4 linked regions of the Homo sapiens genome follow. Each later gene encodes a partner of the first gene's protein in a complex. Each region holds a gene or a part of one and is shown in the gene's direction. Other genes may lie near its edges. The genes, in order: DRC7, DRC10, DRC5 and DRC9.

The links.
Region 2: DRC7 (region 1) and DRC10 share a complex: the UniProt entries of both Homo sapiens proteins name them as parts of the nexin-dynein regulatory complex.
Region 3: DRC7 (region 1) and DRC5 share a complex: the UniProt entries of both Homo sapiens proteins name them as parts of the nexin-dynein regulatory complex.
Region 4: DRC7 (region 1) and DRC9 share a complex: the UniProt entries of both Homo sapiens proteins name them as parts of the nexin-dynein regulatory complex.

What each region holds. Positions count from the first base shown.
Region 1 is NC_000016.10:57,689,893-57,697,827, forward strand, and holds the start of DRC7 (dynein regulatory complex subunit 7), read left to right. Parts: upstream 1-4,913; 5' UTR 4,914-4,960; intron 4,961-6,510; exon of another isoform or gene 6,511-6,571; 5' UTR 6,572-6,702; intron 6,703-7,935. UniProt on the Homo sapiens protein: Component of the nexin-dynein regulatory complex (N-DRC) a key regulator of ciliary/flagellar motility which maintains the alignment and integrity of the distal axoneme and regulates microtubule sliding in motile axonemes.
Region 2 is NC_000012.12:113,218,073-113,225,075, reverse strand, and holds the start of DRC10 (dynein regulatory complex protein 10), read left to right. Parts: upstream 1-3,981; 5' UTR 3,982-4,079; intron 4,080-7,003. UniProt on the Homo sapiens protein: Component of the nexin-dynein regulatory complex (N-DRC), a key regulator of ciliary/flagellar motility which maintains the alignment and integrity of the distal axoneme and regulates microtubule sliding in motile axonemes.
Region 3 is NC_000006.12:44,280,699-44,287,720, reverse strand, and holds part of DRC5 (dynein regulatory complex subunit 5), read left to right. Parts: coding exon 1-172; intron 173-441; exon of another isoform or gene 442-531; intron 532-1,188; coding exon 1,189-1,757; intron 1,758-5,161; coding exon 5,162-5,611; intron 5,612-7,022. UniProt on the Homo sapiens protein: Component of the nexin-dynein regulatory complex (N-DRC) a key regulator of ciliary/flagellar motility which maintains the alignment and integrity of the distal axoneme and regulates microtubule sliding in motile axonemes.
Region 4 is NC_000003.12:197,949,970-197,956,991, reverse strand, and holds part of DRC9 (dynein regulatory complex protein 9), read left to right. Parts: intron 1-381; exon of another isoform or gene 382-1,218; coding exon of another isoform or gene 1,219-1,242; intron 1,243-2,844; coding exon of another isoform or gene 2,845-2,989; intron 2,990-5,680; coding exon of another isoform or gene 5,681-5,833; intron 5,834-6,013; coding exon of another isoform or gene 6,014-6,024; exon of another isoform or gene 6,025-6,056; intron 6,057-6,692; exon of another isoform or gene 6,693-6,802; intron 6,803-7,022. Other genes in the region: RPL35A (large ribosomal subunit protein eL33), read right to left, coding at 1,219-1,242, 2,845-2,989, 5,681-5,833, 6,014-6,024. UniProt on the Homo sapiens protein: Component of the nexin-dynein regulatory complex (N-DRC), a key regulator of ciliary/flagellar motility which maintains the alignment and integrity of the distal axoneme and regulates microtubule sliding in motile axonemes.

The sequences.
Region 1 (7,935 bases):
GCCCACCTCCCCGTCCGGATGCTGGGTGCTGACGTTGACTGCAAATGGATGCGCTTCGCTTCCCCTCCCAGCCCACAAGCAGTTGAAAGACAGGAAGGTGGGCCCTCACTTTATGCAAGGCGCTGTGTTCCTGGAAGGGAAATTCTGGGGCGTGGACATTGCATCATTTGAGCCACAGGAGCAGTTCTGGTGGACAAACTTGGTGTGTTTTGGGGCTTATCTTCACAGACATCTGTTTCTCACACTGAAGGTCTCAACTTCCTTATCTCAAAGCCTCAGGGATGGTAACCTGAGAAACAGCTGTTCCACCATCTGATAGGTCTGGGCTTAAATCCTGGCTCGGCTACTTAGGAGCTGTGTGATCCTGGGCATTTTACTTCACCTCTCTGAGCCTCAGTTTCCCCATCCATAAAATGGGGATTATAAAGTCCTCACCTCATCCTGACAGCATTAAATGAAGTGACAGAAATAAAGTGCCCAGCACTGACTCCGCAGGAGTTAGTCAGCTCCCCCACCCTGCCTTGATTTAAAGAAAGACCAGCCAAGGGTAATGGCATGAGGAAATGGAGGTCCAGACAGGCCCAGCCACCTGCCCAACTAAGGTCACTCCATGGGCTGGGTTGAAGCTAGGGCCAGGCCTCCCCGGGTTGCCCTCATCCCAGAGTGGTCCCTGAGTTTAAGGATTATCACCTGGTCCTTGACTGGGCTTGGTGGCTCACACCTGTAGTCATAGCACTTTGGGAGGCCAAGGCAAGAGGATTGCTTGAGCCCAGGGGTTCGAGACCAGCCTGGGCAACATGGTGAAACCCCGTCTCTACTAAAATACAAAAAAAATTAGCTGGACATGGTGGCGTGCGCCTGCAGTCCCAGCTACTCAGGAGGCTGAGTCAGGAGAATTGCTTGAACCTGGGAGGTGGAGGTTGCAGTGAGCTGAGATTGTGCCACTGTACTCCAGCCTGGGCAACAGAGCAAGACTCTGTCTCTTAAAAAAAAAAAATATATCTAGGCATGGTAGCTACTTGGAAGAAGAAGCAGGAAGACCACTCGAGCCCAGCAGTTCAAGACTGCAGTGAGCTATGATGACGTAACTGCACTCCAGCCTGGATGACAAATCAAGACCATGTTTTTAAAAAAAAAAAGGAGGAGAAGAAGGAAGAGAAGGAAGGAGGAGAAGGAAGAGGAGGGAGAAGGAGGAGGAGGAGGAAGAAGGAGGGAGAAGGAGGAGGAGGAAGAAGGAGGGAGAAGGAGGAGGAGGAGGAAGAAGGAGGGAGAAGGAGGGAGAAGGAGGAGGAGGAAGCAGAAAAAAGAAGAAGAATAAGAATTATCATCTGGTCCCAGCCCCCAGTCTCAAGGAAAATCCTGGGTTGCAGAGTTTCCCAAACTGCTTAGTGGGATGCTTAGTGCTTGTTGTGGGACCAACAAGACCGCAAGTCCTGGATGGCTGGGCCTCCTGGCTCAGAAGGAGAGGGCAGATAAGAAGGTGTGGCTAGCATTGGGGGTGCACTGCTTTTCTGGCTTGCTCTCCATCCTGGGGCTAGGCAGGGGCTGAGGGGCTGGAGTTCCTCATCACCTGCGGTTCCTGCAAAAGCAGCTCCAAGTGCCATGTTGAGCACCCATAAGGCCAAGGGGGCTATGGTGAAAATACACCCCAAAGCCCAGAGCAGATGGATGGAGTTCCTCCGTCATTGCACAGCAGCAATAGCAACCTAGGAGGTGGGCCATCATCACAGGTGGGAGCACAGACCCTGATCTCCGTTCACCAGTTTCAAATTCTGTCTTTGCAACTTGTCTTGGGCAAATTCTTCAACTACTGAGCCTGTAAAGCAGAAACAGCAGTAGCTGCCCCACAGGGTTAATGAAGGAAATGAATAAATGAGACAGTGCCTGCAAGGACTGCCCACTGCCTGGCCTGCCTGGCCCAGAATGAATGTGACAAAGCCAGAGCTTTGCCTTGGCCATCATCTCATCAGGTCCTGGGTACAGAGAGGGTCCCTTCTGCCATGGCTCCTGCCTGGTTCTCTCTTCTGCCCAAATCTCTTCATTCCTTGTATTTTTTCATTACAACATAACAAATACACAGGAAAAAAGAAGACTTATTTGCTCCATGCTGTCAGATAGGCAACACTAAAAGATATAAATCCTTCATCAGTTAATGAATTCAATGAAATTACAGTAAAGATTTTGGGGCGGGCACGGTGGCTCACATCTCTAATTTCAGCACTTTGGGAGGCTGAAGCAGGAGGATTGCTTGAGCCCAGGAGTTCCAGAACAGCCTGTGCAACATAGCAAGACCCTGTCTCTACAATAAAATAAAATAAGGGAAAAAAATAAATATTCTAATTTATTTTTTTTTGCTTCTCCAGAAACTTTTAAAATTGATATGGAGGCATATAGACCTCAAATAGCTAAGTCAATCTTAATGAAAGAGGGCATACAGGAGGTGGAGGTTGCAGTGAGTCGAGATCATGCCTGTGCACTCTAGCCTGGGCGACAGAGCTAGACCCTGTCTCAGAAAGAAAAAACAGAAAGAGGGGCATAGAAGGAAGACTTGACCTCTAGACATAAAGATATTACAAGGCCAGTTTGGTAAATGCAACGTGGTGTCTGTGCAGGGATAGGAAAGAAGATCAGTGGAACAGCACAGAGTGCTCAGAGGCAGACCCATGGACACCTGGGGGATTTAATACGTGACAAAGGTGGCATCATTATTTTCAGAGGAGGAAATACCTAAAACTAACACATTAGTTCATGAAGACACATTTAAAATCATTAGTCATCAGAGAGCTGCAGACTGAAATGACAATGAGACCTCATTGTATCCTTATTAAACTGATGAACTAGAAAGCTAGATGGTACCAATGGGCAGGGACGATATGGGAGCCAGGGAGAGTCTAGACTGCTTCAGCTGCCTGGAGAAAAACACAGTGCTTCTGCTGAGCCAGCAATCTTGCTACTGGTTGTTTATCTTGAAGAAACATTCTTCCAGATCTAGACCCCTCTAGACCTGTGTAGCATTGTCTGTGATGGAAGGGAGCTGGTAGCAAATCTGAGTGGTCTGTCCAGCCCACCCAATGTCTGCTGGGGAGTTCCCTCAAGACTGCCCCAAACCGTCAAGAGGTAGGGCCAGTTGGAATTCCAAAGAAATAAACACTAAGCGCCGGGGTGATCCGTATCCATCCAAAGCATTTATTAGGGAAACGTACATAGGGAAGGCTGTAGTGTTCTCATGACAGACAGCAAGAAGGGAGATGAGTCTGTTCATAACGAGGAGGTGGGTTTATGGAGTTTATATGAGTGTTTAAGGGATTCGGTTCAGGGCTGGGGCACGTTTAGCATTTGTTTGATCTTTCCATGTTTCCAGCAACAACCTAAACAACTATCAGTGCCTGGGGACATTGAAAGCTCCCTCTAGAACACCTGGACACCGAGTGCCCGTCACTGGAAGGACGAAGAGGTAATAAGTGTGGATCCACACAATAACGTGGAGAGATCTTAAAAACACAGCCCTTCATGAAAATATAAGAACCAGAAGGATATATTTGTTCAGTCTCATATTAAACATATATTAAAAACACCAGCATGCCAAACAATACTCATTTTGGAAAAAAAAAATACACATCAGAATGGTTACTTTATAGAGGTGGGAAATGAAAGTGGGTATGAAGAGAAAAAGGAATGAATAAATATGTAAAAGGAATGAAGTGTTGCATAGGGTTGAAAAAGGACAATGAAGCCTATGCTGCATCCCACTAGCATAACGCATCACCTGTTTTCCTTTCTCCTCCCTCCTCCCTTCCTGCCTTCATCCCAGCCAGTTCCCCACAGAGGTAATTACGAGTTGCTTAGCACCAAGTCTGAAATACTACACACACTGTCTCGTGAGCTCTCCACAGTGCAATTGATCCTTTAGCACCAAGTCTGAAATACTACACACACTGTCTCGTGAGCTCTCCACAGTGCAATTGATCCTTTACAGCTTATTTTTATGGCTGCATGATATTCCAGCTGGGAGGGGGAACATCATTCTCTATTCATGAGAATTGAGGCAATTCCTAAGTTTCTAGCAGTAACACTAACTGTGCAAACTTGTCAGCACAGTGACAGTCTGGATTCCCTCCTGGCAGCCCTATCCCCTGACCAAAAAAGGCCCATGCACCCCTCCCTCCAAAAATAAAACAGTGAAGATTATATTTTAGGACTGTATTGGTAAAAACACAGATATAATTCAGGGCAGATTCACACTTATATAGTCATTATTATTCTCATTTTTTTCTTCTGAATTTAAAAGAAATTAAACATTTTCATGAGCCACTAGCCTAATGGATAGGTTTTCCCCGTACTTCGAGGTAATGTTCTACATCACAGCTCCGGCCTGGACTAGAACCCAGGACTCAGTCAAGGCAGCCTGGTTCTGTCCACCGCAGCTGGCAGCTACTCCAGGCCCCACACTGGTTTCTGTCTGTCTCGATCAAGGCCACATTCGGCATGCCGTGGGGCAGGGGCTGTGCTGTGCTGGTAAATGTTTAACAACTGGCTGGCTCAGAGGAAAAGCCCTGGTCTTGGCGTTTGCTAATTTTTGTGGTGTAAATAACCCCATGGCCAATTTTTTTTTTTTTTTTTTTTAGAGAGGTTCTCACTATATATTGCCCAGGCTGGTTTTGAACTCATGGGCTCAAAGGATTCTCCCGCCCTGGCTTCCCAAAGTGCTGGGATTACAAGTGTGAGCCACCGTGCCCAGCCCTCTTAATTTTTAATAATGGCTGTGTTTCACAAAAATTTTGGAAAGTTTAACAACTATCAAGTTGATGCCCCACTATACCAGTGCACCGCTGGCAGAAGGACCCATGAAACCTGGGAAGACTACATTTCCCAGAAGCCTCCTCTCCCAGGACCGGCGTTCAGCTTCCCAGGTTGTTACCATGGAGATGGCTAACAGCTAGAGCAGGCTGTCCTCGGAGGGGTGAGGAGGGAGCAAGGGACTTGGGGTGGCTGGACCCTGTCTGGCAGGGAAAGGGTGAGGCTGGTGGCCCCCTTCTGCCTGGGGGCCTCCAGCCCTGATCTTTCTGGGGAAGTTGTTGGTGGGGTGTGTGTGCGTGTTTATGTGTGTTGGGAGGAGGAAGTTGCTGGTGGAGAGGGGGTGCAGGGAAGGGCCGGTGGGTTGGGGCAGAATCTAAGGAACCTTGAGATAAGACTGCCTTCCCCACACTGGGCTATAGCTGAAGAGGCCACCTGTGTAGGGAATAAAGTGCTGTGGGTTCTTCTCCCCAGCTCTGCCTCTGATGGTGTTCTGGGACTGACACGTCGGCTTCCTCTTCAGCCTACTTCTTTCCTTGCCCACCACTCCCCCACCCCCACCATCCCTTCTAGCACTTCCCCATCTCATATCTCTTCCAGCCTGAGACACACAGGTTTCACAACCAGAAATACAGGGGTTCAAATCCCAGACCTGCTACTTACTGGCTGTACCTTAAGCAGTGCACTTAACTTCTCTGGGCCCCAATCTTCTCATCTGCAAAGTGGGTGTCCTCAGTGTCTGCCTCATAGAGTCAGTAGAGGATAAGTGAGATGATCTCCGTACAACCCTCAGCACAGGTCTGACACACAGTAGGCATTCAGCAAACTGTAAATGCCTTGTAATGGTGATGACTGCCCTTCCTGGGCTCATTGTCTCTGGGACCAAGAGGCCAACAAATGGATCTGATCACTGAGAAGTGCTGCTTGGCTAGAGGTTCTCCCCTGAGGATCTGGGGTCCTGAATGGTGTTGGGCTACCTAGGCCTTGGGTGGCTTCCAGCCAGATGAGCATTCGTCCCCTCCTGAGTCCCAGAGCACAGAATGTCAGAATTGGACAGAAAATATCTGCCCTCCCTTCCTACTATAAAGAGAAACTAAGGCACAGAAAGGCGCAGACAGTGACCCAAGGGTCCAGCAGGAGCTACTGGCAAAGCCAGGGTTTCCCCAACCAGGCTCAGTCGTGGCTGGTGGCCAGGGACTCACCTCCCTAGGAGGCCGAGGTGGCCCATGTGGGTGTGGAGTTGGAAATTGGGGCCAGCCTTTATCTGCTGCTCCCTTCTGCCCTCTTGCTCCTGGCTTCACCCAGGGAAGTGGGGGATGATTAGAAAATCAAGGGGATTCTGCTTTTTTTCCTTACTACTCGCCCCCTTTGTCCTGTGGGTTTCGTTTGTTTTCCTCATCTCTGGACCCCCATTTGCCGTAAGGAAAACAGATGTTCGAGGACAGAAATGGAAAGACCCCAGCTGGGAGGCTGCAGATAGTGCATCAGCTGGGATGGCGTTGGGTGGTGTGGAACAGGGACCCCCATAGAAGCTGAGGTTTCTTATATAAGGAAAGGCTAGAGGTGGCACTCCAGGCCTCTGTGGCACTGCTGGGGACCCCAGCTCCCCCATCTCTCGGCCCTGCCGTCCATAGCAGGCAGCTTTAGCCCTCATGTGTGGCCACCTCATGGTCTCGCCTTGGCTGCCCCACCTCCCACTTTATCTCCACATTCCAGGTGGGAGGAGGAGAAGGGCAGAGGGCTCCCCAATCACTTCTGCCCACATCTCATTGGCCAGAACCGGGTCACATCGCAGGGCCACCTCTAGCTGCAAGAGAATCTGGGAAGCTGAGCAATTCAAACCAGGCACACTGCTGCCCCCCACACAACTGGGGTTCTGCCGTATAGAAGAGGAGACTGGATCTTTGGGTAGGTGACTAGCAGTCCCCGCTCAGTGTGGCTCTGCTCTGTGACCACAGGACATATGGTGAGCACATGTGGCGTCTCTGCGTGGATCACAGAATGAAGCCTGTTCTCTGGGCCAACACAGGCCTTGGCCAAGAGAGAGTAGGCTGTGTTACCCCCACCCCCCACTCCCTGTTTGTATGCCCTGGTGCAGGCACCTTCACTCTCTGTGCCTCGGTTCCCAGTTTGATCAGGTGAGATATCATTCACCTGCCATCCTCATTTTTGGGTGGGTTGTAGATCATATCACCTTACCGTTAGGATTTTCTTTAAACCAATCTATTTATTTATTATTTATTTGAGACAGAGTCTCACTCTGTCACCCAGGCTAGAGTGCAGTGGTGCGATCTCAACTTACTGCAACCTCTGCCTCCCAGGTTCAAGTGATTCTCCTGCCTCAGACTCCTGAGTAGCTGGGATTACAGGCGTGTGCCACCACGCCTGGCTAATTTTTGTATTTTTAGTAGAGACGGGGTTTCGCCATATTGGCCAGGCTGGTCTCGAACTTCTGACCTCAAGTGATCCACCTGCCTCGGCCTCCCAAAGTGCTGGGATCACAGGCATGAGCCACCGCACCCAGCCAATTCATTTATTTAAATAAGAAACTTGACAATACTATAGTAATCCCCACAGCATTCACAGTACTTGTCATTGATAACTGTCAGCTGGCACAATGGCTCATGCCTGTAATCCCAGCACTTTGGGAGGCCAAAGCAGGAAGATCGCTTGAGGCCAGGAGTTTGAGCCTGGGCAACATAGCCAGACCCTGTCTCTACCAAAAAAAAAAAATAGCCAGGTGTGGTGGTGTGCACCTGTGGTCTCAGCTACTGGGGAGGCTGAGGTGGGAGGATTGCTTGAGCCTGGGAGTTTGAAGCTGCGGTGAGCCATGATCGTGCTGCTGCACTCCAAGCCTGAGTGACAGAGCAAGACCCTGTCTCAAAAAAATAAAAAATTTAAAAAAAAAGATAACTGTCAAATATACTAAAAGCAAATCGACACGTGCCTTTCCCTGTCCTGTCCTGAGGATGGCTTCCAACCGGAGGCCTGCTTTGTCTTTGTTGTAAAGGAATATTTGCCAGGATTAGAAAGGTGTTACAGATGGGGTAGCACCAAACAGAGACTTTCTCCATGTTTGAAAGGAAGTCAAAGAGGGAATCACTCCCTATGTGTTCGACACCTCCTCAAAACCATCTCCCA
Region 2 (7,003 bases), on another chromosome or scaffold:
CTCTAAAAAATAAAGTAAAATAAAAGGCTGGGCACGGTGGCTTACAACTGTAATCCCAGCACTTTGGGAGGCAGAGACGGGTGGATCACTTGAGCTCAGGAGTTCAAGACCAGCCTGGCCAAAATGAAGAAACCCCGCCTCTATTAAAGATACAAAAATTAGCTGGGTGTGGTGGCTTGCGCCTGTAATCCCAGCTACTCTGTAGGCTGAGGCAGGAGAATCACTTGAACCCAGGAGGCAGAGGTTGCAGTGAGCCGAGATGGTGCACTGCACTGCAGCCTGGGCGACAGAGCCAGATTCCACCTCAAATAAATAAATAAATTAATTTAATTAAATTAAATGACAAAAAAATACAACCATTAAAATAATAGTTAATATGCGGCCAGGCGCGGTGGCTCATGCCTGTAATCCCAGCACTTTGGGAGGCCGAGGCGGGCGGATCACGAGGTCAGGAGATCAAGACCATCCTGGCTAACATGGTGAAACCCCGTCTCTACTAAAAATACAAAAAATTAGCCGGGCGTGGTGGCAGACGCCTGTAGTCCCAGCTGCTCAGGAGGTTGAGGCAGGAGAAAGGCGTGAACCCGGGAGGCGGAGCTTGCAGTGAGCCGAGATTGCACCACTGCACTCCAGCCTGGGCGACAGAGCGAGACTCGTCTCAAAATAGTAATAATAATAATAGTTAATACTCAATGAGTGCGTACTATGTATGAGGGACCCTACTAGCACTTCATAAGTAAAAGTTAACTGAAAATTCTTAATAGCCCCATGAGATAGGCAGGCTTATTATCCCCCCATTACAGGATGGGTGTGGTGGGTATTTCAGGCACAGACAGATTACGTATCCTGCCCAAGGACCCACAGCTAAATAAAAGCCAAGCTTTCAGCTCTACGGTGTGACTCCAAACCTGTATTCCCAGCCATTACACTATAATTCCTCAAAGTCTGGGCCATGTATTTAGGCAGCACCTAGCTTCAATCATCAATATATACTTGCTCATATATACAGATTTAAAATACATCTTTCACTTCAGCTTTACCATGCAGCCTCTCAGAACAGTTAGAAACATACTTCCAAAATGTATGATTTTTATATCATTTTTATATAGGAGTTGTTCTCTTAGATTTAGGTGTCCGAGGAAGGGGAAAAGAGTATTTTTTTTTAACTGGTGAGTATTTTTTAATACAGTAAAAGTGCTCATCCTTAACTCCCAATTTAAAACACTCAGAGCAGCCGGGAGTGGTGGCTCATGCCTGTAATCCCAACATTTTGAGAGGCCGAGGCAGGTGGATCGCTTGAGGTCAGGAGTTTGAGACCAGCCTGGCCAACATGGCGAAACCTGGTCTCTACTAAAAATACAAAAATTAGCCAGGTGTGGTGGTGCATGCCTGTAATCCCAGCTACTGGGGAGCCTGAAGCAGGAGAATCACTTGAACCCAGGAGGCAGAGGTTGCAGTGAACTGAGATCACGCCACTACACTCCAGCCTGGGCGACAGAGCGAGACTCCATCTCAAAAAATAAATAAACTAAAAATTTAAAAATAACTAAATAAGTAAAACACTCCGAGCTAGCCTGTTACAGCTCCTATTTATGCACATTCCCGTTTCCGCTGAGAAGAACCAAAAAAAAAAAAAAAAAGACTCAGCAGATCTGACTGCAGACCTTTGAACTTGCAAACAGCAGCAGGTTCCTTCCTCAAGCTGTGGGCTCTGGGCTCAACCCACTTTGCCTCCCAACTGACCTAGTCAATGGCAGCTGAGCAACTGACTTCTTCCTCGAATCATTGGAACAACTCCAAGCAAATCCTTGTGCATCCACAGGGAACAGTACAACGTTTTGAAACAAGGCAGCGAAAGTAAACATCATTCTACTTGCTGCTAAGCCCGTAGCTCTCTGCCCAGCACACTTCCTGTGAGTTTTTTTTTCTTAAGTTTCCTCCAGATCTGGGGATTTATTTTGCTTTTAAATCTCAGCAGTGGAAAGGCAGAAGAGGAAATCCCAGATGAGACACTACTATTTGGCAGTCTTAAGAATTATGGTTGTATTGTCGTTTTGGTTTAACTTTTTACCACAGATATTTTCAAACATTCTCAAAAGTGCAGAGAATATATACGTGAACTTCCTTGTATCCATTACTCAGCTTTGACAATTATCTCCCATGTTTACTTTGAAGGCAGGAGAATTTATTAACTCACAGAGAAGAGGTTTCTTAATGTTACCATTATCATAATGGCTAGTGGTTTCTATGTTTTAACTCACGGCTGTCCAACCTTTTGGCTTCCCTGGGCCACGCTGGAAGAACTATCTTGGGCCACACATAAAATACACTACCATTAATGATGAGCTAAAAAAAAAGAGGCAGGGGGGTTGTTCATGCATAATTTTCATGATATCTGCCACCATAGATTAAAGTCCTCGCATTCAAATGCTTCAACACGGTTGTTTAACTGTTTAATATATGACTGCTTGCCTGCCTGTACTGCCTTTGCCCACTGGCTTTCAACTGGGGTGATTTTTGCCCCCATGGGGACATCGGCAATGTCTGGAGACATCTTGACTGTCACAACTTGGGAGTGGGGGGATTGCTGGTGGGTGGAGTCCAGGTATGCCACTGAACTTGCTTCAATGCACAGGTGAGACCTCCCGAAACAGAATTATGTGGCTCAAAATGTCAACTGAGCTGCTGTTGAAAAATCCTATCTTAGCTAATATCCCCACTTTAGGAATGAGGAAATTGAAGCTTGGAGTGGTTAACTTGCCTTTTATAAGTTTCAACCCAGGCAGTCTGAATCAGGGACCCTGCCTGCTTAACCATTACCCTATATACACCTACGACTAGAACCAGTCCCCTGATTTGAATTCAAACACGTCATTTTTCCAGACAGACAAAAATGAGGCCCAGAGAGGGGAAGAGACTTGCCCAAGGTCACACAGTGGAGGAGTAGGGCTAGAACCCGGGACTCCTGCGTCCTGGTCCAGTGTTCCCTCCGCGGGCTTTGCTTCTGCCTCTACAGAGGACCCAACTGGCCAGCGCTGGGGAAAGGGCCTAGGGGAAGAGGTTCAGCTACCATCCCGCTGTCCGCTGGGGCAGCCTGACCCAGGCACAAGACTCCTGTGGGGTCACCTAAGGGCGCCAGGGAGAAGAGCGAGGGAGGGAGGAAGAAGGAGGCAGGACAGCTGGCTCCAGCTCCACGTGCTCCCAGCCCCTGGCTGGGAGCCCACGTGAGGGTCGCCCTAAGAAGTCGGGGGCGAGGAGAGAGGGTGCAAAGCCCCGGCCCGGGCTGGACGGAGAGAAGCGCGGTGGAGACTTCCCTGCGCCCCCTCTGGGCCCGTACGGCCCACCTCCCACACCAGAGTGCTGCGCCGCAACCCCTTACTCCGCGTCCTCTGACCCCTGATCCCTGCCCTCTCCCTCGGGCCAAGCCGTCGCATCCCTCGGATTCTTACACGCGCCGCCCCAGCAACCCGGACCGCGCGCCGGGGTCCGCACCGCGCAGCCTAGCCCGCCGGCGCCGCCGCCAAAACCCCGAGCCCGAAGCTGTTGCAGCCGCCGCAGCCGCCGAAGCCGCCGCCACTTCAGCCACTGCCACCAGGGCAGCTGCGCCAGCTCTCCTATCCACCGCCTACCGTCCTCTCAACCCCGCTGGCCCCGCCCCATTTCCCCTTCACAGCGTCCTACTGGCTAACTGGGCTACCGTGATGAACTCTGATTGGCCAACTATCACGTCCTTCCGCAGGTCTCGCCCGCCGCCGATGCGGTACTCCCTGCCCGCCTCCTTAAGAAGGGGCGGGACGAAGAATCCACGCCCCTTACTCCTCCCTTGTTCCCCGCCTTACTCGTTGAGTCCAACCCAGAGGGAGTCCCAAGTCTTTCCATTGGTGAAAGGTCAAAATGGCGGTGCTTCTGATTGGTCAGACTTCAGGAGGTGGGGACAACTGAGCGGAACAATAAATTGAATGGTGAAAAGAAAGGTCAGTCAGACACCGAGTCTCGCCTTCTGAGATTGGCGGGTAACCTAGCAACGCAGGGACCGCGGCGGTAACTGTGGCTAGGGAAACCTGGAGCGGTCAGAGCAGGTGAGTAGCCAGTTGGGAAAGGGTCGCGGATCGGGGGAGATGTGGAATAGGGTTCAGCCCTCTGTCCTTTGGCTCCCTGAGGAATTAGAAGCCCCCGCTGCGATCTCGTCTCAGCTTCAGGACCCTGTCCCTCAGCTCCTGCCTTAGTCTGGACCTTTCGCTCCACAACCTGCAGGGAGCCGGCCTCCATTCTGCCCTTCTACCTGCCCACTTCATGGCTCCACTCCCTCATCCCTAAAACGAGGAGGACAACAGTCAAGCAGAGTCATATCGTAGTTAACTTATTTCAAGTCAAACATGGGAGCTGTGGGTGGGAGGGGAGTTTATAAGTCCCCTCCCATTTCACCCAACGGCCATACGTTCCTCGGTGAGCAGGCAATCTCACTTCAGTGTTTAAATTAGGTAGTTTTGTTTGTTTGTTTTGTTGTTGTTGTTGTTGTTTTTGCCGAGCATGGTGGCTCACGCCTGTAATCCCAGCACTTTGGGAGGCCGAGGCGGGCAGATCACTTGAGGTCAGGAGTTCTAGGCCAGCCTAGCCAGTATGGTGAAACCCCATCTCTACTGAAAATACAAAAATTAGCTGAGCATGGAGGCGCACCTGTAATCCCAACTACTCGGGAGGCTAAGGCACGAGAATCACTTGAACCCGGGAGACTTAGGTTGCAGTAAGCCAAGATAGCGCCATTGCACTCCAGCCCGGGCAACAGAGCAAGACTCTGTCTCAAATAAATAAATAAATTAGGTAATTTTTATTACACCACTTTTGCCTTTATCCTAACTTTGGAATTTAACTCCCATCTCCATCCTTAAGATGTGATCTCATTGTACCTACTGAAGACAGAGAGTTTCTTGTGATGATTAAATGAGGCTAAGGGCCGGGCGCGGTGGCTCAGCCTGTAATCCCAGCACTTTGGGAGGCCGAGGCCAGCAGATCACCTGGGCCAGCAGATCACCTGAGGCCAGGAGTTTGCGACTAGCCTGGCCAACATGGTGAAACCCTGTCTCTACTAAAAATACAAAAATTAGCCGGGCCTGGTGGCGTGTGCCTGTGATCCCAGCTACTCAGGAGGCTGAGCGGGAGAATTTCTTGAACCCGGGTGGTGGAGGTTGCAGCGAGCCGAGATCGTGCCACTGCACTCCAGTCTGGGTGATAGAGCGAGACTCCAGCTCAAAAAATAAATAAATAAATAAATAAATAAATAAGGCTGAGGTGGGAGAATTGCTTGATCGCAAGAGGCGGAGGTTGCGGTGAGCCATGATTGCACTACTGCACTCCAGCCTGGGCGACAGAGCGAAAAACCCTGTCTCAAAAAAATATATAAAAAAAAAACTTTGAGGTTCAAAAGATATTTTCATAAGAAAATGAAAAGATCAGCCACAGACACAGACATGGAGGAAATATTTGCAAATCATGTGTCATAAAAGAGTTGTATATAGAATATAAAAATAACTCTTATAACTCAATAAGAGGACAACTCAATTTTTTTAATGGGCAAAAGAGTTGAGTAGACATTTAAAAATCAAAAAGACAATACCAAGTATCATCATGTAGATAAATAAACAAACTGTAGCTTTCATATGTTGCCGGTAGGTACAGCAGAATACCAATTGGTACCACCAATCTGAAATATAGTTGGCAGTTTCTTAAAAAGTTAAACATAGGCCAGGCACAGTGGCTCGTGCCTGTAATCCCAGCACTGTAGGAGGCACAGGCAGGTGGATCACCTGAGGTCAGGAGTTCGAGACCAGCCTGGCCAACATAGCAAAACCCCGTCTCTACTAAAAATACAAAAATTAGCAGGGCATGCTGGCGGGTCCCTGTAATCCCAGCCATTTGGGAGGCTGAGGCAGGAGAATCACCTGAACCCAGGAGGCGGAGGTTGCAGTGAGCCGAGATCGTGCCACTGCACTCCAGTCTATGTGACAGAGTGAGACCCTGTCTCAAAAATAAATAAATAAAACAAAAAATAAACTTACACATAACCTAGCAATTCCACTCTTAGGAAGTTACCCCTCCCAAGTGAAAACATAAGTCCACACAAAGACTTAAATATAAATGTTCTTAGCAACATCACCCTTAACAGCCCAAAACTGGAAACAACCCAAATGTCATCAACAGGTGAATAAATAAATAACTCATGATATTTCCTTAGAATGGAATACTATTCAGCAATAAAATACTATTCAGGAATGAAATACTAATAATTGCTACAACCTGGATGAACCTCAAAAACATGTTAAGTTGAGGGTTTTTGGCCCAGTGGCTCACGCCTGTAATCCCAGCAATTTGGGAGGCCAAGGCAGGAGGATCCTAGTTTGAGCCTAGGAGTTTGAGCCTAGGAGCCTGGTAACAAAGTGAGACCCTATCTCTACAAAAAATACAAAAATTAGCCAGGCATGGTGGTATGCACCTGTAGTCCCAACTATTCAGAAGGCTGAGGTGGGAGGATCACCTGAGCCTGGGGAGGTCAAGGCTACAGTAATCCATGGTTGCACTGCTGCACTCTAGCCTGCGTGACAGAGTAAGACCCTGTCTATTAAAAAAAAAAGGCAGCCGGGCACGGTGGCTCACGCCTGTAAATCCCAGCACTTTGGGAGGCCAAGGCAGGCAGATCACCTGAGGTAGGGAATTTGAGACCAGCCTGACCAACATGGAGAAACCCCGTCTCTACTAAAAATACAAAAAAAAAAAATTAGCTGCGCGTGGTGGCGCATGCCTGTAATCCCAGCTACTTGGGAGGCTGAGGCAGGAGAATCGCTTGAACCCAGGAGGCAGAGGTTGCAGTGAGCCGAGATCACGCCATGGCACTCCAGCCTGGGAAACGAGAGCAAAACTCCATCTCAAAAAAAAAAAAAAAAGGTCAGGGTTTTTCAACCTCAGCTCTATTGATGTTTTGGGTGAGAAAATTCTTTGTTGTGGGGAA
Region 3 (7,022 bases), on another chromosome or scaffold:
CAGCTCTCAAAGCCTTCAATCACACCAGTCCCTGCAAAGTCCAGGAACCCACATCCCAGGGCCAATATCCGTCGGATGCGCCGGATCATTGCTGAGGATCCTGAGTGGTCACTGGCCATCGTGCCCCTCCTCACAGAGCTCTGCATTCAGCACATTATCAGGAACTTCCAGAGTGAGTCTGTCCCTGCTTTAGGTGGGCAGGAGAAGGCCAAGAGGGGGGCTAGGTGGGTGGGGACTGTCCGGAGCCAAGACTGCAGAAGCTGGGTCCTGGGGCAGCCCCTGCTCTCCCGTATGGCATCCTCATACCCACTCAACACTTCCCTTCCACCCAGGGCCAAGACAGTTTCTCCTTCTGTTCCCACTGGCAGGTCCCACCAGACTCCCACCCACACTGCACCCTCCATGCCTCTGCCCTCTCCTTGCCTTTTCTACTCTCTCCAGCAAAACCCAGCCTGAGCCATATCTACTTCCTCCTCCAGAAAGCCTTCCCAAGTGAACCGCCCTCTACTCTGATGGAGTCTTCCATGCCATGTAAGGGCTCTTGGTTTGTTCCATATTTTGTGCTCTGTAATATTGATCCTTTCCAAAGATGGACTGCCAGCCTCTCCTACCAGATGGGGCGCTGTCTGAGGACAGGGCCATTATTTCATCTACAGCAACTATCATCACCCAGTCTCACTCATTTTACTTGTTTATTGTCAGCCTCCCCTCACTGGAATGTAAACTCCAAAAGGGAGAGCCCTGTTTGCTTACTCTTCTATCTCCAGCACGTGGGACATAGTAGTCTCTCATAGTGCTACCTCCAGTGTCTGGCACATAGTAGGTGCTCAAAAAATTTCTTGTTTTGAAATGGATGAATCAAATAAGATTGGAAGCCTCTGACCTCAGGGATTGTATCCCCCATCAGACCAGGTGATAATTGAGAGTTGGACCTGAGAGTCTTCCTCAGTCTGGGAACTCCCTGAGAACAGATGCTGAGATGTCCACCTTCAGGCAGGGAACATCCCAAAGCTAAAGGCTGTGTCCCACCCTCTGCTTGAGCCCCCCTGAGAGCAGAGGCTGTCTATCCCCTAAGCAGGGAAGGGTCTCTCCTTTGCCTGGTGCTCCCAGGCAGGCCCAGCCTGAGGCATCATGTTGAGGTGTCCCCCAACACTGTGACCCCCTGCGCTCCTTCCTCTGTTCCCAAAGAAAACCCTATCCTGAAGCAGATGCTCCCGGAACACCAGCAGAAGGTCCTGAACCACCTGTCCCCTGACCTACCACTGGCTGTGACCGCCAACCTGATAGACAGTGAGAACTACTGGCTCCGCTGCTGCATGCATCGCTGGCCCGTGTGCCACGTGGCCCACCATGGCGGCAGCTGGAAACGCATGTTCTTCGAGCGGCACCTGGAGAACCTGCTAAAGCACTTTATCCCAGGCACCACAGACCCTGCGGTGATCCTCGACCTGCTGCCGCTCTGCCGGAATTACGTGCGCAGGGTCCACGTCGATCAGTTCCTTCCGCCGGTGCAGCTCCCGGCCCAGCTCCGGCCGGGCGACCAGTCCGACTCAGGCAGCGAGGGAGAGATGGAGGAGCCCACCGTTGACCACTACCAACTGGGCGATCTGGTAGCTGGCCTGAGCCACCTGGAGGAGCTGGACCTGGTGTACGATGTCAAGGACTGCGGCATGAATTTCGAGTGGAATCTCTTCCTCTTCACCTACCGTGACTGCCTCTCCTTGGCAGCCGCCATCAAGGCATGCCACACCCTCAAGGTACTGTCTGCTCCCAGCCTTCCCCCCACCCCTTCTCAGCATCTCTCAGATTCCCTCTCCCCTCCTCTTCCTCCTCTATTATTGCCTTCTTCCTATTTCCTTCTCTTTCATTGGCCAAGTGTTTTTTAATGCACCCTGCACCAAGATACACGGTTCTGGGGGTGTAGAGATGAACAAGGCGCTGCTCTCCCAGTTCACCAGTTGGTTTCATTGAACAAACAGCTGCGCTCCAGGCCCTGTCCTAGGTGCTGAAGATTCAAGGATGAGCAAGATTATCATTTGTGCCCTCTGTAGCTAACAGTCTGATGGGATAAAGGCACTAATCAGCAATCATATAAACATAAAATTGATACTAGAATAGGGTTGCCAGATGTAGCAAATAGAAATACAGGACATCCAGTTAAATGTGAATTTCAGGTCCAGGCACGCTTGTAGTCTTCCAGAGACTGAGGAGGCTGAGGTAGGAGAATCCCTTGAGCCTCGGAGTTCAAGCCTGCAGTGAGCTGCAATCACACCACTGCACTCCAGCCTGGGTTACAAAATGAGACCCTGTCTCCAAAAATTTTGAATTTCAGATAAACAGCAAAGAATTTTTATAAGTATGTCCCGAATATTCCATGGGGCGTTCTTATTTATCTGAAATTTATTTTTAACTGGGCATCCTGTACTTTTTTCTGGTACCCCTGAATTGGGATGAATGCTATAAAGAAGAGATACTCTTATGAGAGATTGTAAAGGAGCATTTGACCTTGCAAGGGAAGGCTTCCCTGAACAAATGTCACTTACATAGAGATTAGAAGGAGGAGGACGAGTTACAGTCTCAGAGGGAGGAGCGTTCCAGACAGAGGGAGCAGTGCATACAGGCTCTATGGGCAGAGTGAACATGGCCAGCTCAAAGAGAAAGAGAAGACTGTGTGGCTGGCGCAGAGTGTGAGGTGGTCAGCCTTGCTGGGTGAAGGAGGCTTTGTCCAGGAGGCTATCTTTATCCTTAGGAGCTCTGGGACACCATCCAAGGGTTTTAGGCAAAAAAGTAGGTACCATTACTGGATTTCACATGTGAAAATGTCACTCCGTCTGTGAGGGAGGATGGCCTGGGCAGGGCAGCAGTGGACATGCAGATTACCTAGGAGATCACTGCCAAATCCAGGTGAGGGTGAGGGTCATTTCAGCGAGGGTAGTGTCTGTGGAGACTCAAAGGAGTGGAGAGAGTCAACACATATTTAGGCAGACATGTGTCTGGCATGCACCTGGCCACACTGGCACAGGGAGGATCTGAAGGAGAAGGAAGGAGAAGGAGGTGAGGTGCAAGACCTCTGGCTTGTGAGGCTGGATGGCTGGAGGGACCATGTGCAGAGACAGGGAATGTGGGAAGAGGATCAGTTTTGAGGGGGAAGAGTGTAAGTTTCAGTTTGAGGCATCTCAAAGAAGGGGTCATTTCGTTAGTTGGGTAGAGGGTCCGAAGCTCAGATGAGAGGTCTGAATTGAATGTGGGAATGTGTGCCATCTTCATGAAGGTGGCAGTTGCAGCCCTGGGTTTGGATGGAGTCTCACAGGGGAGAGCCAAAAGCAAGACAACAAGAGGCCTGGCATGTGGTCTCAGTGGAAGAAGAAGAGCTTGCCAGGAAGCCAGAGGGAGGAGGAAATGGGGAAACATGGCATTGTGTCACAGAGCAAGGGAGGGGTATGTTTCAAGTAGAGGGAGTGAGCAACGGGGTGGAATAGAGCTGAGGACTGGATTTAGTGAACATGGAGGTCACTGAGGGGGAGCTATTTCAGTGGAGTGGCAGGAGCAGAGGCCAGATAGCAGTGGTTTCTGGGGAGAGTGGGAAGTGAGGAATGGGTGGCTGTGATCAGCTTTTTCAAGAACTTGGCTGCGAAGGGGAAAAGGTACAGCCATAACCGATGAGAGCTTTGGGTTCCTTCAGAATAACTCACATATGTTTAAAACCAGTGTAAGGCTCCATCCAGTTGCAAGAAAGGGGATGAATGTAGAAGAGAGGCACGGGTTCATAGACCAATAAGTCAGTGCTTGGTATCAGGAAAATGACAGGTTCCCATTCAATGACTGAGAAGGCAAGAGGAGAGTTCACCTGCTGAAAGAGGGGGCTCAGCAAGGAGGCCCCTGAATTCTGAGGAGGCTGCAAAAAGCTGAAATAGTTGTTGTAGATTATAAGAGGGTATTTTGGCCAGAGAAATATAGTTAGATTGGCATGCAGCGTTACAAGCCTATTGGTGTTTCCGGTGATAGCAACCAGTCCCATCAGCTGATGTTTTCTATTTTGTCAGTTGCTTGCGCACAGGCATGCAGAAAATAGAGAGTGGGGCTGATCCAGGGTTAGGGCTTTGCCAGAGAGACGCAATGAAAAGAGAAGAGACACAAAGGACTCAGCTGGGTAAGAGGGGTATAAAAAGGAGTGAACCGAAGGGTAGAGAGAGAGAGGCCAGACACTCAGAGGTCTCAAGGGAGAGAGAGGAGTGGGACAAGCCAGCGGGAAGGTGAGGGGGAGAGGTTCCCATGGACAATATTCATACTGCCAGCCCCATCCCCTTTCCTTCATTCCTTTATCTCATCCTTTTCCTGCTTCTCCACCTCCCCACTGTCTCCCTGGTTCTTGCCCTGGCAACCTCCTTCAAAGAGGTCCTCTCCTTGCCCTGGTGGATCTTGGCTGGGAGAGGAGGATGCAGTGAGGGGCTGAGGCCTCAGGCAGGCTTGGATTCCAAACCTGTCTCAACTGCTTCAATCACTGCATTACTCTGGGGAAATAATGTAAGCCTCCATTTTCTGTCTGTAAAATGGAGAGAACTTTCTCTTCTTCATCGAGATGCTGAAGGTTAGAGATAATGGTTGTGAAAGACCCAAGCGGCCGGGCGCGGTGGCTCACGCCTGTATTCCCAGCACTTTGGGAGGCTGAGGCGGGTGGATCACGAGGTCAGGAGATCAAGACCATCCTGGCTAACACGGTAAAACCCTGTCTCTACTAAAAATACAAAAAATTAGCAGGGCGTGGTGGCGGGCACTTGTAGTCTCAGCTACTCAGGAGGCTGAGGCAGGAGAATGGTGTGAATCCGGAAGGTGGACCTTGCAGTGAGCCAAGATCACGCCACTGCACTCCAGCCTGGGTGACAGAGCGAGACTCCGTCTCAAAAAAAAAAAAAAAAAAAAAGATAAAAAAGGAAGACCCAAGCAGCATACCCAGCATGTAGTAATTGCTCAATAAACAGTGATCTTTCCTCCCTGCTACCTGCCACCAATTCTACACTACTCTGCCATGCTGGTAGGCCTGGCCCCCTCCAAGACCCAGCCAGGTGGCCAACACTAGGTGAGCCAAGTTTGCCAAAGATCTAGGTGGGCAGGCTGATTATCCCTGGCTGGCAGTTGCTGTAGACCCTCTGCCTGCCCACAGATCTTCAAGCTGACCCGAAGCAAGGTGGATGATGACAAGGCACGCATCATAATTCGAAGCCTTCTGGACCACCCAGTCCTCGAGGAGCTGGACTTGTCACAAAACCTCATTGGAGACCGTGGTGCACGAGGTGCTGCCAAGCTGCTGAGCCACAGCCGCCTGCGTGTGCTCAACCTGGCTAACAACCAGGTGCGTGCACCCGGTGCCCAGTCCCTGGCTCACGCTCTGGCACACAACACCAACCTCATTTCCCTCAACCTACGTCTCAACTGCATCGAGGATGAGGGTGGCCAGGCTCTTGCCCATGCCTTGCAGACCAACAAGTGCCTCACCACGCTGCACCTCGGTGGCAATGAGCTGTCTGAGCCCACCGCCACACTCCTGTCACAGGTGCTCGCCATCAACACCACACTCACCAGCATCAACCTGTCCTGCAACCACATCGGGCTGGTGAGCCACCTATTCTGGGCTTGTGAGGGTGGGTGTGGAATCCAACTGCCAGGGGTACTTGTGGGATAATTGTGAAGATCACAGAGTTTACATACTACATACTGCATCAAGTATGCACACATACTGTGTATCCCAATGATTATTTTTCCTTTAATCCTTACAGTTACCTAAGTAACTGTATATTAACCCTAAGCATATTTAACCCTAAATATATTTAAGTATATAACTAAGTATATTTAACCCTACTTTCTAGATGGAAAACTAAGTTTCAGAGAGGATAGTGAGTTGCCCAAGGGCATCAAGTCAGTAGCAAGTGGCAAGGCTACGATTCAAACCCAAGATTGATTGAAAGCCTGAGTCCTTTCTAATAGACTGTGTCTCTAAAACTTTCTTAACCAAGTCTGAGAGTAAGAAATGCAATTTACGACCAGGCACAGTGGCTCACGCCTGTAATCCCAGCACTTTGGGAGGCTGAGGTGGGTAGATCACCTGAGGCCAGGAGTTCGAGACCAGTCTGGCCAACATGGTGAAACCCCATATCTACTAAAAATACAAAAATCAGCCCAATGTGGTGGCATGCACCTGTAACCCCAGCTACTTGGGAGCCTGAGGCAGGAGAATTGCTTGAACCCAGGAGGCGGAGATTGCAGTGAGCTGAGATCGTGCCCCTGCACTCCAGCCTGGGTGACAGTGCGAGACTCCGTCTCAAAAAAAAAATGCAATTTACATGAACACTGACATAAACATAATATTGAAATTTATGACGTGATATATGCTGATATTTTCCTTTACATTCCATTCTATTGTATTTTTTAAAATGCTTCTGTGACCCATTAAATTGACTTTGCAACACACTACTGGGTCACAACCACAGAATGGTAGCATTCTGCCTCCCAACGTGAAATTCTTTCACATTGGGGCTAGCCCACCCAGCCCAGCAGGGGTTGGAGCTGTGATGACCATTGAGCAGGGCCCTCCATTAGGTCACTGAACCCTCTACTAAACCTCCCCATGAGAACAGCCTTGCTCACCTACACAGGCACATACACGCACACACACGTGCATGCGCGCACACACACACACACACAGTTTCTAGAGGGGGTGCTGTTGACTGCAAGTAATAAAAAGCTTAATCAGAAATGGCTTAAGCAGGAGGAATATTCAGTGTCTCCCACAACCAGAATTAGAGGGTTGTAGGGTCGGTAAACCCCTGGGTTCAGTGCTACCCTCTGCTCTGCCCACCCCAGTCTCATGGCCAATGCCTCGCTAGTGCTTCTGTCAGTCCCAAGATGGCTGCCACAGTTCTGACATCTCATACAGGGACATGCCCAGAGGCAGAAACCGGGAGAACACCTGCTCCCTTTTCTTCTCTTTTTGGAATGAGGAGAAGCTTCCCAGAAGCCACCCTCTC
Region 4 (7,022 bases), on another chromosome or scaffold:
GGGCTTAGGTGGCAAACTCCCAGTTTCTTGTTGACATTTTCAGTGCAATTTAAAGATGTTAATTTAAAAAACTACCTGTGCTGTAGAGATCAGTAACCCTCAGGGGGCAGACAAAAAGACTGTTACTGCATCAGTTAGAAATGTAGTACTACCTGGGCAACATAGTGAGGCCCATCTCCACAAATAACTAAAAAGTTAACTGGTTGTGGCTGCACATGCCTGTGGCCCCAGCTATTTAGGAGGCTGAGGCAGGAGGTTTGCCTGAGCCGAGGAGGTTGAGGTTGAGGTTGCAGTAAGCTGTAATCACGCCACTGCACTCCAGCCCAAGCAACAAAACAAGACCTTGTCTTCAAAAAAAAAAAAAAAACCATACAGCAAAACTGATGCCTTAGTTGTTTTATTTTAGCATATCCCCAAGAAATCTAAAATATTTAGGAGGCCTGCTTAAAGTGCAATCTTGAACTTTACCAGATTAAAACATGAAGCCAAAGAAAGCTGCCACCTTTCCGTGCACTATTCCCAACCTCCATGTACCTACCATAGGATTGCTTTTTATGAGTGGAGTAATATGGCTTAATTTTATTTTAATATACTGGAATGCTTTGTCCAGTCACAAGTCCCAAGAGCTTCTCATCCCAGTCTATCCAAATGAACTGCCAAAGCCCATCAACATAATCTCCATTCAAATTTTAAGTTTCCCAATCTGCATTGAACAAATGCATAGTATCACAAAGCACTTGGCAGGTGTGGTGGCTCATAACTGTATCCCAGCACTTCAGGAGAGGCCAAGGAAGGAGGATTGCTTGAGCCCAGGAGTTTGAAGCCAGCATAGGCAAGAGTCAGACCCTCTCTACAAAAAATTTAAAAATGACCCAGGGATGGTGGCATGAGCCTGTGGTCCCAGCTACTTCAAAGGCCAAGGGAGGATTGCTTGAGCCTTTGAATGTGAGGCTGCAGCGAGCACCACTACACTCCAGCATGGGCAACAGAGCAAGACTCTGTCAAAGATACTCGCATTAAAACCCGTTCCCTTCTAAATCTCTGTACTCGCCCTGTAATTTTCATCACATGTCTCTCTGACCCCCTTGTACTCCAAAAATGCTGAGCAACCTCTATCATTTTAAGCATGTAGCAAATCAATTTAAGGTAGTAAGTTTTTTAATCCACTTAAAAATACAAGAGCACAAATCCACATTTATTTATTGATTTTTCGTTAGTTTAAATCCTTGAGGGGTACAGCATCTGCAGGGAAAAAAGAACACAAAACATTAGGTGAATGTTATATATACGTCTACAAATCAAGAACCGTAATACGGATAAATCTCTGAAAGGCTACCAATTACATGTTCTAGTGGTAAGGAAAGTTTTTATAGCCTTCAGTCTCTACGTGAACATACCGTAAGAACCGGCACTCATAAAAAACATGTACTGGCCAGGTGCTGTGGCTCACACCTGTAATCCCATCACTTTGGGAGGCCTAGGCGGGCAGATCCTAAGGTCAAGAGATAGAGACCATCCTGGCCAACATGGTAAAACCCTGTCTCTACTAAAAAATACAAAAATCAGCTGGGCATGGTGGTACGTGCCTATAGTCCCAGCTACGCAGGAGGCTGAGGCAGGAGAATCGCTTGAACCTGGGAGCTTGCAGTGAGGCAAGATCCCACCACTGCACTCCAGCCTGGTGACAGAATGAGACTCTGGTCTCAAAAAAAAAAAAAGAAAAAGAAAAACATGTACTGAAGGTACATTTAATTTTGCTTCTTCTAAAGACAGAGTAAAAGCCTCCTCTGTTGATAAACCCTAATGAACCACTTAGCAGGGTTCAACAGTACCCCCTGGCCCCAAGAATACATGGTATGCATATATTCTTGGTCCCAAGAATATACAGTCTACATTCCAAAATGGACCCTAAAGAAAAAGTACGAACTATTTGAGAAAAATTACAGGAGAAAATTGAGAAAAATTTAGAGTCCAAGGCTGGCACCAAAGACCTGAGACCTAGGAACATGAGAGTCTGTTTTCTTCATGTACAAAATAAAGCTACTAACACCTGTTCTAACAAGACTGACATGATGGAAATGGCAAAATATTAACAATTATGCCAGGCGTAACTGTTGAATTGTTGCTTTCTAACAATTACTTCAGTGCCCAATAAATATCTTCACCAGAAAACTATTTATTCAAGGCTGGCTGTGGTGGCTCAAGCATATAATCCCAGCACTCTGGGAGGCCAAGGTGGGCAGATCACTTGGGCTCAGGAGTTCAAGACCAGCCTGGGCAACATGGAGAAACAAAATACAAAAATACAAAAAATTATCTGGGCATGGTGGTATATACGCCTGTAATTCCAGCTACTCGGGAGGCTGAGGCACAAGAATCACATGAACTTTGGAGGCAAAGGTAGCAGCAAGCTGAGATCATGCCACTGCACTCCAGCCTGCGTGACAAAGTGAGACCTTGTCTCAAAAAAACACAACAAAAACCCCAAAAATTAGCTGGGTGTGGTGGCACACGCCTATGGTCCCAGCTACTTGGGGGGCTGAGGTGGAAGGATTGCTTGAACCCAGGAGGTCGAGGCTGCAATAAGCTGTGATTATGCCACTGCACCCCAGCCTGGGTGACAAAGTGAGACCCTGTCTCCCCCCAAAAAAAAAACAAAAAACAAACAACCAAACACCTAATTCTTTCAATTACTATCTCTCCAGTGTTCTGCAATACACAAATTTTGCAGCATAATTTACTGGTGTCAATTTCACAACCACAGAAGTCCTCAGAAGTCAAAGCACAACACCTTGAACCTAGTCTGATTCATCAGACGTCCATTTTGCTAAAAACCATACTCACCACTCGGATTCTGTGTCCAATGGCCTTAGCAGGAAGATTGCTTCGGAATTTGGCACGAACCATGCCACTGTTTCCATGGGCCCGAGTTACTTTTCCCCAGATGACTCTGGTTTTGTTTGGTTTGCCGCCAGGAGTGACTGTGTTGCTGATTTTAAAAAGGGAAAGAAGAGGAATACAAGCTGATATAGTTGGATACAAATTCAAGGTGACCTCTACACGAGTGGCTCTCAACCCTGGTTACCCACTTCATCACCTGAGAAACTTTAAATGCCTAGAACACCATTCATTCAACAGATACTTATCGAGTAACTATTGTATGCCAGGCCCTTCTGTAAAATACAGCAGCTATAAAACAAAAATCTTTCACATGATAACCAAGTAAGTTTAAGGAAAATACATAGGTCAGATGATAACAGAGGCAATATTGAAAAAATAGCAAAAAAGGACAAGTGTGAGGATATTTGTGTGTACAGAAAGGAGGAATTACCTGCCATTTTAAATAGCCAAGGAAGGTCTCACTGAGGTGACCATGGAACAAAGACTGGAAAGGGAGGGGAAATGCCATGAAGTGATCACGGGATGACTAGCGCAGGCACTGGGGCCAAGGAGTGTGTGTCCTGGCCGGAAGAAAGACTGAAGACACCAAGGGGTTAATCCCAGCTGAGATAAAGAGAATTATGGAGCTCTTAATGACGGGCTTTTACTGAATGAGAGAAACTACTGTGGTTCGAGCAATGTACAAAGGATATGACTTTATATATATTTCCTTTAAAGACCACGGGGTTGTCTTGTCACCCAGGCTGCAGTACAGTGGCCCAATCATAGCTCACTGCAGCCTCTATCTCCTGGCATCAAGCAATCCTCCCACCTAGGGCTCTCAAATGCTGGGGCTACAAGTGTGAGCCACTGCACCTGACTTAAAATTTTAAAGGAACACATTGGCTGTAGAAGAAAAGGTGGGGCAATGATTAAAACACTTTCCCAGAGATTTTAATTGGCTTGGAGTGGGTGAAGACAATAGGATTTGCTCTTGTTGTCCAGGCTAAGGTGCAATGGCACGATGGCTCACGCCTGTAATCCCAGCACTTTGGGAGGCTGGGGCGGGTGGATCACGAGGTCAGGAGTTCGAGACCAGCCTGGCCAACATGGTGAAACCCTGTCTCTACTAAAAATACAAAAGTTAGCCGGGTGTGGTGGTGCGCGCCTGTAATCCCAGCTACTGGGGAAGCTGAGGTTGCAGTGAGCTGAGATCACACCACTGCACTCCAGCCTGGGCAACAGAGCAACACTTTGTCTCAAAAAAAAAAAAAAGTCTACAGCATAAACATCTTTAGGCATGCATAAAAACTAATTTTGGCCTGGTGCAGTGACTTGCGCTATAATCCCAGCACTCTGGGAGGCCGAGGCAGGTGGATTACTTGAGGTCAGGAGTTCAAGACCAGAGTGACCAACACTGTGAAACCCCGTTTCTACTAAAAACATAAAATTAGCTGGGTGTGGTGGCACACGCCTGTAATCCCACCTCACTCGGAGGCTGAGGCAGGATAATCGCTTGAACCCGGGAAGCAGAGATTACAGTGAGCTGAGATTGTGCCATTGCACTTTAGCCTGGATAACAAGAGCAAAACTCTGTCTCAAAAAAGAAAGAAAAAAAGAAAAGAAAGAAAAGAAAAAACAAGGGGCGGGGCACCGTGGCTCCTGCCTGTAATCCCAGCACTTTGGGAGGCTGAGGTGGGTGGATCACAAGTTCAGGAGTTTAAGACCAGCCTGGCCAAAATGGTGAAACCCCATCTCTACTAAATATACAAAAATTAGACAGGCATGGTGGCGGCCGCCTGTAATCCCAGCTACTCAGGAGGCTAAGGCAGGAGAATCCCTTGAACCCGGGAGGCGGAGGTTGCGGTGAGCCGATATTGTGCTACTGCACTCCAGCCTAGGTGACAGTGAGACTCCGTCTCCAAAAAAAAAAAAAAAAAAAAAAAAAACCCATAATTTTAAGGCATTAACAAAATGCATTAAGCACAAGTGTTCTAAAAATCCTTAAATTCTGGCAAAAGGAGCCGAGAAAAAAAATTAGAAACCTTAAAAGGATCACAATATAAGGAATTACCTCCTTTATTGCTTACAAGTGCAAAAGGTACCTAAATCCAACACCACCCTCAGAAGTAACGTCCTTCTAAAACTCCCCATTAAGTTCCTTAATGACGCAAAATAGAAGCCACAGCAATACCAATCCAGCCTGGCCAACATGGGGAAACCCATTCTCTAGTAAAAATACAAAAATTAGCCGGGCGTGGTGGCACACCCCTGTAAGCCCAGCTACTCAGGAGGCTGAGGCAGGAGAATCGCTTGAGCCAGGAGGCAGAGGCTGCAGCGAGCCAAGATCGCGCTACTGCCCTCCAACCTGGGCAACAGAGACTCTTGTCACAAAAACAAAAAAACAATACCAAGTACTTCAGCTAAATCTTTTGTTTATTATTTCAATAGGATAATGAGGCCAGGCGCGGTGGCTCAAGCCTGTAATCTCAGCACTTTGGGAGGCCGAGGTGGGCGGATCACCTAAGGTCAGGAGTTTGGGACCAGCCTGGCCAACATGGCAATACCCTGTCTCTACTAATAATACAAAAACTAGCCGGGCGTGGTGGCCGGCGCCTGTAATCCCAGCTACTCGGGAGGCTGAGACAGGACACTTGCTTGAACCCGGGAGGCGGAGGTTTCGGTGAGGGAGACCAAGTCACTGCATTCCAGCCTCGGCAACAGAGCAAGACTCCGTTATATAAAAAAGAAAATGAGGCAGATCTCAAAAACCCAAAACCTACCAGTGTCATAAACTTACTTCTTTGCTTTATATACATAAGCGCATCTCTTGCCCAAATAGAATTCTGTTTCATCTCGGGCGTAAACACCTTCAATTTTAAGAAGAGCTGTGTGCTCCCTTTGGTTCCGGAGACCCCGCTTATAGCCAGCAAAAATGGCCTTGGACCACAGCCTAAGACACAAAAGATACACAACATGAAACATAAGCTTCAAAAAACCAATCTGACTTGTAATCACCCCCACCCAAAAGTTACTCAGAGCAAACATCTAAGTTTTTTCTTGCCAATTTTAAGCTCGCATTTACGTTCACGTCTAACACACAAAAATAAAGAACTATATTTAAAACGCGTACCTTCCAGACATAGTTCCTTTTAGAAGTCCCGTTCCCAGCAGGCCTTAAAACAAACAAAAAGATTAGTTTAAAACCAAGCCACACAAGTTTCCCACCTCGTCCCCTCTCGTTTAAGCCCCTAAAGCAAATTCCTTTTGGATGGGAGTTTCATGTAGGAGTTCGGGGACAACAATGCCAGAACATCCATATGAAACGCAGGGTCCGGCAAGACATTCAAACCTCAGAGAACAGCTGGTATCTAAGCAAACTTCAGAATGAAGACAAAACTAAGGGACAGGAGTCACAAAAATGACTCTCAGAAAAGCCTGAGAAAATGCATGCCGTTATCAGTAGGCAACACTCAGGAAAAGAAATGAAGCCTTAAAGAGAAACACACACGTAAGACTTTTATGCAATGGCTGGGGGAGAAAAGCTGAGGAAAGAGACTGGTCAGACAAGCCAAGGAAGGTATGGACTGGGAGGAAACGGATGAAGGAAGCACTGCCTCATGGACAACTGCACACGAACAAAAACATCGTTTCACTCCGTTCAGGCCCAGGAATTTAACTGGGATAACCCGGGCAGCCGTTCTCCGGGTGTCAGGGGACCAAACACCATCAGCCCAACATCTCCTCCATCCTGTTCTCCCTCTTCTTGAAACCCGTAGAAATCAATGGCTGGCAGAGACTCCGATACGCACCGGCGACTCGCCAAGGCACAGGAACAAACCTACTCCGGTTATTTGCCCCCAAATTTCAGCAGCAGACCCTTCACTCACCTCCACAGGAGCCAAGATGGCGGTAAGAGAAGGACGAGGCCCCGCCGCGTGGCCTTGTGGGATTAAACATCTTTCGACTCCGCCCTCAATTTAGGCATCTTCTCCAAACGCCAGAAAAACAATCCTCGGAAATCGGCTTCGCACTGAAATAAGCCACATTCAATAGCACTCTTACAATTATTTTCCTAAGTCCTTTCATCTTGGTAGGCTGCAAAATGTACTACTTGGGAACAAGGGAAGGCAAAATGGTAG